2 linked regions of the Homo sapiens genome follow. The protein of the gene in region 2 purifies or fractionates together with the protein of the main gene of each other region. This does not show direct contact. Each region holds a gene or a part of one and is shown on either strand. Other genes may lie near its edges.

Region 1 (4,716 bases), on a different chromosome or scaffold from region 2:
ATTTGAAAGCCATGATGAACAGAGAGGTGTGGAAAATCTAAGATCACAAATATGCCATGAGAAAGTATCTTTGTCTCTACTGCTACTTTACAAAACCACGTCTCTAACTGCTAACACTTCAAATTCCCTCAAAATAAGCTTCTTTTCCCAATTGTCCCTCACCACCAACTATAGTCATGCTCTGAAATTATTATGGAAATTTAGCATCTGAAAGGAACAGGAAGTTATAATTAATTCCTAATTAGAATTGGGCACAAGCTTTTTTTTCTTATTTTTTTTTTAATTTTTTTATTGTGACAGAGTCTCGCTCTGTCGCCCAGGCTGGAGTGCAGTGGCGCGATCTCCACTCACTGAAAGCTCCACCGTCTCCCGGGTTCATGCCATTCTCCTGCCTCAGCCTCCCGAGCAGCTGGGACTACAGGCGCCCACCACCATGCCCGGCTAATTGTTTTGTATTTTTAGTAGAGATGGGGTTTCACCGTGTTAGCCAGGATGGTCTCGATCTCCTGACTTCGTGATCCGCCCGCCTCGGCCTCCCAAAGCGTTGGGATTACAGGCGTGAGCCACCGCGCCCGGCCGGGCACAAGCTTATTGTTTTTCTTCTACCTTTTCTAAATGTACCCAATGCTCTTCATGTTTTCTGCCAGATGTTCTAGTCACTGCATGATGGGATTGTTACTTTTGCTGCTTCTCTGGACTCCTCACTCTTAGTCATTTTAAATATGGTCAAAATGACAATCTTTCTTACCATATTTGATATATAACTTTCAAAAAGAATAAAACTTAGCACCCTCCTATTAGTCCTTATCTAAATGGAAACTTATTAGCAGAGCATCAAGGGCCCAATAAAGTGCCCCCTCTTTTGAAACTTATCTCTACTCCCTTTCATATATTTCAATCATGTCAATTTCTTATTGTTCTTCTAAATAGGTGCTGATTACTAAACTCTATTCGTGGGTTTTATTTTTTATGTTCCTCTCCATTAATTAATATTCTTCACTGACTTTAAGACTTCACGATTCATTCTTTTAAAAGAACGTGTTTGATTTCCTCCACTGTTAACTGCTAAATATCTCTCTGATATATTGTTTTCAGGCTATCTTTCTCATCTGGAGTAATTATGTTTCAAGTGTCAGGGGGAAAATACCTTTTCTATCCTGTGCAAAAACTCATGCTGGGCACTAAGAGCATGGAGCATGTCCCAGTTATCTATTGCTGCATAACAAACCAACCCAAACTTAGCAGTATAAAACAACCACTGCTTTAGTATGCACATCAACTTTCAGGGTCAGAAATTCTTTTCTCCTTCATGTATAGAGTCTCAGCTGGGAGTGACATAAATAGGTGGAGACAGACCTCTCCAGCCCAGTCCAGCCAACAGCCTCCGCTCCTGCGCACCCGCAGCCTGGGGCCCCAGGTTCCTGTGGTCTCACCGACCCTAATCCTCTCATCTCTCCTCCCCATTCCCTCTCCAAATTGTTTCAGAATTCCAAATTCTTATCTGGATCCGGCAAATTAATTCAGCTACTCTTCAGAGTCTCTCAGTTATTCCCAAATTCTCTCGGAAGCTTGAATTTACCTATCTAAATCCATTCTCAAAAACACATTGGCCTTTTCTAGCCGGGACATCTCCAACAGTAGTTGCTGTTAGAAACTGCAATTTCCCCTTCTCTGCATACACATTTTTATAAATTGATTTATTGGTAGGCAAATTACATTTTTAAAAAAAGGCATGTGTGGGTTTTCAGGGAAGCCTGGACAGGACGTGGGCGTGCCGGGAGCTCGCCGGAGCAGCTGGTCCGGCTCTGGGCGCCCAGCGGAACCAGGGCTGTACTCACCTGGATGCCGGACCCGCCCCCTAGAGACCCCGCCCCCTGGCGTTCGGCTACTAAAGGGAAGGGGATTCCCAGGGGGTCCTCAATCCTGGACTCTCCCGACCCCTAGCTGTCGGTCCCCCTCCCTGCGCGCGCGCCGGCGGGTTTCCTACCCTCCGAGGCGTCCGCTGGCCTGCGCCCTGGCGGGGACGTGGGCGGGGCGGGCGGCATTTAAGGCTGGTGCCACCTCCCCGGTGCAGCGGCTGGCGATCGGCCGCGGAGGTGCGTGCAGGGCCCGCGCCGCCGCCGGTATCTCCACCGCCAACACCTCAGCCACTGCCACTGCCACAGCCACACGAGGCCCCCCACCGTGCGCTCCGCCGCTGCGGTCCCGGATCCGCGCTCCACGCCCGCAGCCCGCGGCGCCACCAGCCCAGCATGCACCAGGTGCGTGCAGCCCCCGCGCCGGCCGAGGATGCGAGACGCTGGGCCAAGGCCCCGGGGACCGGAGCAGGCTGACGGGAAGCGAGGAAAAGGCGAAGAGGAGAAACGCCCCGTCCCGGGGCAAGGGGAGGCCGCCTTTCCTCTGAGCGCCCCCCGGCCTGGGCACCGCTTCTCTGACTCCCCGCCACGGCTCCGTGCGGCCGCCGGGGCTGGCTGGGGAAAGAAGCCAGTCCAGAGGAGCGAGAAGGGGCCAAGGGGTCCTAGGCCAGCTCCATGGCACCTGCGGGCTCCGACTCGGAGGATGGGGTGACATGGATTCGTTGCGGTCTGAAAAGACTTCCGGTTAGGGCCCCCTGATCAGGACTGAGGGTCGTAAGCTTAGTGGGTGCCTCCTCCCCAAGAAACAGGACGCACAGCTGTTGTGTCCCCTGGGAAGGACACCTCAGAGGAAACCTCGAGGTGCCTAAGGAACCTCGAGGTTCTAAGGAAACCTCACAGCTCCTTGGAGGCATCAGTCAGGAGTTGGGGGGGTAACTTCCCACCTGCTCCACCCAGAGAAGGGTCACCCTGAGGAGCTGCTGGCTGGCCTGTGCCCACCCCGCCTCCCCTCTACACGGACGGAGAGGAAGCCAAGGTCGGCGGGAGGTGGGGGAGAGACTCCACTGTCCGACTCCCTCCGGCCTCCCCAGAGGAGGGAAGGAAAGGGAGAAGGGGCTCCTGACTCCTGCAGGTCCTGACCCCGCAGAGGGGCGCTCAGCACCTCTTCGGAAACCCCATTTGGGGCCAATATTGCACCTGGGCTTCTCTTTCAGAAAACCCCAGAAATTTACTCCGTGGAGCTCAGCGGAACTAAGGACATCGTGAAAACAGACAAGGGGGATGGCAAGGAGAAGTATAGGGGTCTGAAGAACAACTGCCTGGAACTCAAAAAGAAAAATCACAAAGAGGAGTTTCAGAAAGAACTCCATCTGGTCAGTAGCCTTAAGCCACGGGGTCCTGCCGGCTATGGCCCTTCCCCGCAAGAGCTTGCCCCTAGAACCCACCTCTTACCACAGACATTCAGTCTGAGGGATTTGAAATCCCCTTGAGATTGTGTGTGGTGTGTGGTGTCTGCGTGGTGTGTCTGTGTGGTGTGTGTGTGTGGTGTATGTGTGGTGTGTGTGTATGTGTGGTGTGTCTGTGTAGTGTGTGGTGTGTGTGTGTATGTGTGGTGTGTGGTGTATGGTGTGTGGTGTGTGTGTATGGTGTGTGGTGTGTGTATATGGTGTGTGTAGTGTGTGGTGTGTGTATGTGTGTGGTGTGTGTGTATGGTGTGTGTGTATGGTGTGTGTATGTGTGGTGTGTGTGATGTGTGTGTGATGTGTGTGTGGTGTGTGTGTGTGGTGTGTATATGTGTGTGGTGTGTGTGTGGTGTGTGTATGTGTGTGGTGTGTGTATGTGTGTGGTATATATGTGTGTGGTGTGTGTGGTGTGTGTATGTGCATGGTATGTGTGGTGTGTGTGTAGCGTGTGGTGTGTGTGTAGTGTGTGGTGTGTATGTGTGGTGTGTGTATGTGCATGGTATGTGTGGTGTGTGTGTAGCGTGTGGTGTGTGTGTAGTGTGTGGTGTATATGTGTGGTGTGTGGTGTGTGTGTGGTGTGTGGTGTGTGTATGTGTGTGTGTGTGTTTTGAATGGTGTGATAGTATCCACCCAGAGGTCAGGGCCTCTGCAGGATTCCTGCATTCTGGTTGGAGGCAGTCCCTGTAGAACTCAGAAGGAAGAGCCTCTGATTCCAGGCCCCACAGGCATGGCCAGACCTCTCTCCCCGCAGCTGCTTCAGTGAGAGTTAAGTAACCACTTGCCAGTTTTCAATTGATTAGTAAAACTATTTGAGCTGGAACTTCTGAGGAGGAAAACCAAAGCCCCTAGGCCATGCTAGATTGCAGGTGTGAAACCTCATGGAAAAGCAGTTTCAGTGGTAAAAATGTGGAGCTTGGATTGGGAGGACCTCGGGCCCCATCAGAGTCCCACTTCTCCACTGAGCTGAAACTGGCAACAAATGACTGACCCTCACTGAAGGTCCATTTCCTTTATGTAAAATGGGAAATAAATAATTTGCTGGGGTCTATGAGGGGAAAAAATGAGATGAGGATTTTGTAATTCACGTGCTTTAGGGGAGTACAATATTATTATTATTAAGGAAGAGCTCTGGAGTTATTAAAACTAGCCTTTTTTTTTTTTTTGAGACAGAGTTTCGCTCTTGTTGCCCAGGCTGGAGTGCAATGGCGCTATCTAGGCTCACTGCAACCTCCACCTCCTGGGTTCAAGCGATTCTCTTGCCTCGGCCTCCCGAGTCACTGGGATTACAGGCGCCCGCCATCACACCCAGCTAATTTTTGTTGTTTTTAGTAGAGACGGGGTTTCCCCATGTTGGCCAGGCTGCTCTCGAACTCCTGACCTCAGATGATCCACCCGCC
Region 2 (4,478 bases):
TCAACTGTTAAGGTTTATGGTCTTAACACTTCCGAAAGTGAGCACTGGGGTATCAAAGAACCCAAATCGCCCAGGAAGTAGCTGACAAGAGAGTACAATCATTTCCCTTCTGGTCCTCTTAAGCCCTATACAGGAAGAACACTGCTCAAAGGAATCACCTGTGGCCATGTGGAGTCCTTGCCAAAGGACTTTCTCACATGATTCATTATCAGTACATGAATGGAAATAGCTTAGTAATTCTGATGTTATTTATGTTTAAAACCATATAAATACAAACGCTCTTAATCTGTATATTGGAGGGGATGTGGTAACACTGGGATTTCATTATTTTCTGCTTCCTCTACTTCTTTCACAAGATAATGGTGTGTGTGGGTTTTTGCGCTCTCCCCACTGCTGACACATTAAAGAAAACTGCTGACAGACCCACTGCTGTAGATGTAAGGCATTTACCTGGTGCCGACTTTCTGGGATGGCATCAGTGAGTTATTCAGATAAAAACCCAGCCATTTTAGATCAATTTGTCAAATATCAAACCTAAAAAGAAAAAAATGATTAACGCATTCCACTGAATATAGTCAGGTTTTTATTTTTTAATTTACAGAGTAAGCTTCCACACTGCATCTTAAGAGTGTTTTTGAAGGGAGTGAAACCATCTGGTTCACATCAAGAACATATTTTTCCTTATATAGAGCTAGACTGCATTAAGTGGTGGGCACAGGATCTCATCATCTTCCTGCCTGTGGTCAACATCTTCCCCAATGCCCTTGTAGATATACATTAGGCAAAGAGAAAAAGAACGTTTTAGGGTAAAATAGTGCAGTCTCATTCCTAGCCATTTCTTTCTATAGACATGTAAGAAATGTCTATAAATGTAAGAATATGAAAATAGATTGGATTTTTACTTGTGAATCTACAGCTAAACTTAAATGATTCTATTACTTAGTATAAAGCTTATGCACATTTTATTGTACCATAATTTAAAAAATACCTTTTTAAAAGATTACCTTTTCTGTTTTTCTTTTTCCCAGAAGTAATGCTAACGCGTCGTATAAATGTCAAGTTACAGAAGGATGTAAAATAAAAGTAAACATATCCTTACCCTCTATTACTTTTCTCTGCATTTACTTCCCAGAGGTACTACTAATAGTTACCTATGTCTCCTTCTAGGACTTGTATACACATGCATATAAATATGTATATTCATAAAAAATGCATACACATGCATATAAATATGTATATCTATAGTTTTTTCTTTTTGTACATCATAGTATTTTCTTCTTTGTTTCATTTATTTTACTTATGATGGCTAGCAGATTTCCTACATCAGCATATATAAATCTACCTCATTCATTTTGATGGCTGTACAATATTTCATTCATTGTACTCACACATAGTTTATTTAACCAGTCTGCTATTAATGAGCCTTAATCTTTTTTTTCAGTTTTCCTTTTGGCTGCTACAAAAATGTCCCAATAATAATATTTACATATATGCACTTTTGTACTTATATGAATGTATCTATATAATAAATTCTAACAGACTGTTGAACCAAATTGTTTGTATATGCTAAGTTTTTGATAGATATTCATAAAATGTCCTCCGTTAAGGTTATACCAATTTATAATACCAAGAATCTGGGTTTTATCAAATCATTTTTTCTTTATCTGATAAGTAAAAGGTATATCTTTGTTTTGACTTGCATTTCGTTAATTATGAATGAGGTTGAACTTCTTTTCATTTTCTTATTGTTTCCATAGTAATTCTTCTACGAGTTTTCTCAGCCATGGCTTTTGCTCATGTTTCAATTAGGTTGTTTATTGTTTCTCACATTAAAGAGCTCATGTTATGTTAAGGAAACTTAAATTTTACATGTAATGGCTGGCAAATAGCTTTCCCAGGTTTCTTGTTTAGATGATAACTTTGTTTATGGTACTTTTTACTGTATAAGCATTTATTTTTATGTAGTCAAATTCATCAGTATTTTTAATTATATATAGGAGGATTTTTTAAATAAGAAATTTATTTAAAGTTGAAGAGTTATTCAAGAAGATTGTATATAGGTTAATTTTTAAACCAACTTTAGCATACCAAGTTTAGCATTTAGGCATACCAACTTTAGCACTGTTATACAGAATAATGTTAGCATTGGAAGGATCTATTAACAAAAGAAAGTTCCCATAAAATGATTTCTTCTATAAAATATCATGACCGTGTGAATTCTGTGGACTCTTTGTGAGACACTAGTGTACCACAGGAAAAAAAAATGACAGAAAGGGTCAGATTTATAGTACCATTCTCCAGAGAGTTAATAGTAGTTGTCTAGTACCTAAAATCTAGAGTGAATTATAAATAAAGTAATAGAAATTCCAAGACAAATAGAAAGTAAAAAATATAAAATCAATAGAGATCCATTATAGAAAATTTTGTAGGTACATACAAAAGAAAGAAAGAAAAAAAATCATCCTCAAAAGCTCTTAAGATTTGTTGTATATTGTTCCTAATTTTTCTTATTGGCTCCACAGATATGCATGCATTTAAAAAACATGTAAGTGATTTTACTAACAAATCAATCCTAACATAATTAAATGAATTTCATTAAGATGCCAATAACCCAAGACCTTAATGGCACCTTGACAAGCATCTACCAGGTATACACATACATGGGATCACACTTACGATTCATATGTTATACAGTGATTTTTTCACTTACTACTATCTTTACTTGCCACTAAATATTTTAAAATATATAAATTATATATTACATTTTATATTTATACAAAATATATAACAACTGTAATGTTCTATCATATGGCTTAAGTTAATGGAAATTAAAAGGAATAGGAATAACTGTGTGTTCTCTCAAAAATCCACTCTGGTAACTCAGTAGATAATAGACCAGGACATACTCAAGAAATCATTACCCAAGAATCACATCTTTTTCATTCATGATAAAGTGGCAGCAATTAACTGTGTAACTGAGGGCTGGGAGACATCATGATAAAATGTGTTTTATATGAAGTGACATCATTTGAATGGGAGAGTTAGATTATTAAAGCTGGGTTAATGGAAAATTCTCATTCTAAGGGCAGGAGCATTTGAATTGATGGCAAGAAGAATTTGAGTCAAAAAGTAAAGTATATGTGTTGATGAAATTGTAAGTGTGAAGGAAAATATATGTGCTGATAAAGTTGTTAAGTATATGAAATTTACTAGAAAAAAATGCTATGCTACGAGAATTTTTCCAACTGTTAAAAAGAAAAAAATGCTATGCTATGAGATTTTTTCCAACTGTTAAAAAGAAAACCTTGTGCAGATTGCATTCAGCCACAGCCACAAATATTGGGGCTTAGTGAAACCAGGGGACTCTTAGGGGCTATAGAGGGTGATCACTGGTACTTTATTTTTTATTAGTACTAAGAAACTCTGCCTGCTATGTGTAAGATATCTTTTGGGTATTTCTCCTTCTTTCAAACTTCCACTACTTGTCATGATGGCAGCCCTGGATTGATTTTGCCCTAACCCATAACTTACAAATTAGATGTTGTAATGTCAGTGCTACCTGAATATCTACAGTTCTAGATTCAAGGAGCTGGTGAAATTTTATCTCCTACAAATTTTCTCAATACCATTGAAAAAGTGGCTGCTCAGTCCTGTTGGCACAGGTTTCCCCTCAAACATGATCCCAGGGAACCCATACACACCTGTCTTTTGACCAACATCAATAAGCCCCTGTCAAAACAGGAGATATTCGGACAGATCCAACTGATGGCTGTCAGAGAATCTACCTGCACTGGGTGAAACAGCTCAGGGACTGAATCATTTGGGGAGTCACTGGCTTGAGCATTGACTGGTTAGTAACTATATTTTACTACATTTTTGTAAACCATGCTTGTAGTAAATAAGCATTTATATTAAAAGCTGAAAAAGTAATATGTAATTTGAGTTGGAATGCTGAACAGTCTATGTGTATGTAGAAAACAGAAAATAACTTGTCCAATCCAAGGGAGAATTTACTTTATAGCATGAGAGCACCAAAAAGTAAACAGAAAATTTTGGATTTTTATGGGAAAAAATAGAGATATCAAAAGTTGTTATTATTATTATTATTATTCGAGACAGGGTCTTTCTCTGTTGCTCAGGCTGGAGTGCAGTGGTGTGATCATGGCTCACTGCAGCCTTCACCTCCCAGACTCAAGCAATCCTCCCAACTCAGTCTCCTGAGTAGTTGGGACTACAGGTCCCAACTACTACATGGTGTGCGCCACCATGCTCTGGCAATTTTTTATTTTTTGTAGAGATGGGGGTCTCAGTTTGTTGCCTCAGCTGGTCTCAAACTCCTGGCCTCAAGTGATCCTCCCAAAGTGCTGGGATTACAGGTCTGAGCCACCATACCTGGGCTCCAAAGTTAATTTTTAAAAGTATGTCATCTACTATTTTTTTAAAAAGCTTTATTGAAGTATAATTGATATACAAAAAGC

Evidence for each region. The genes of interacting proteins can lie anywhere in the genome.
Region 1: the proteins of AGTR1 (region 2) and ATP12A purify together in Homo sapiens (affinity purification with mass spectrometry; 3 studies listed by BioGRID and IntAct, with this or other methods). This does not show direct contact.

The regions. Positions count from the first base shown.
Region 1 is NC_000013.11:24,678,492-24,683,207, forward strand, and holds the start of ATP12A (potassium-transporting ATPase alpha chain 2), read left to right. Parts: upstream 1-1,916; 5' UTR 1,917-2,252; coding exon 2,253-2,261; intron 2,262-3,070; coding exon 3,071-3,229; intron 3,230-4,716. UniProt on the Homo sapiens protein: The catalytic subunit of a H(+)/K(+) ATPase and/or Na(+)/K(+) ATPase pump which transports K(+) ions in exchange for Na(+) and/or H(+) ions across the apical membrane of epithelial cells.
Region 2 is NC_000003.12:148,704,000-148,708,477, reverse strand, and holds part of AGTR1 (type-1 angiotensin II receptor), read right to left. Parts: intron 535-4,478; 5' UTR 451-534; intron 1-450. UniProt on the Homo sapiens protein: Receptor for angiotensin II, a vasoconstricting peptide, which acts as a key regulator of blood pressure and sodium retention by the kidney.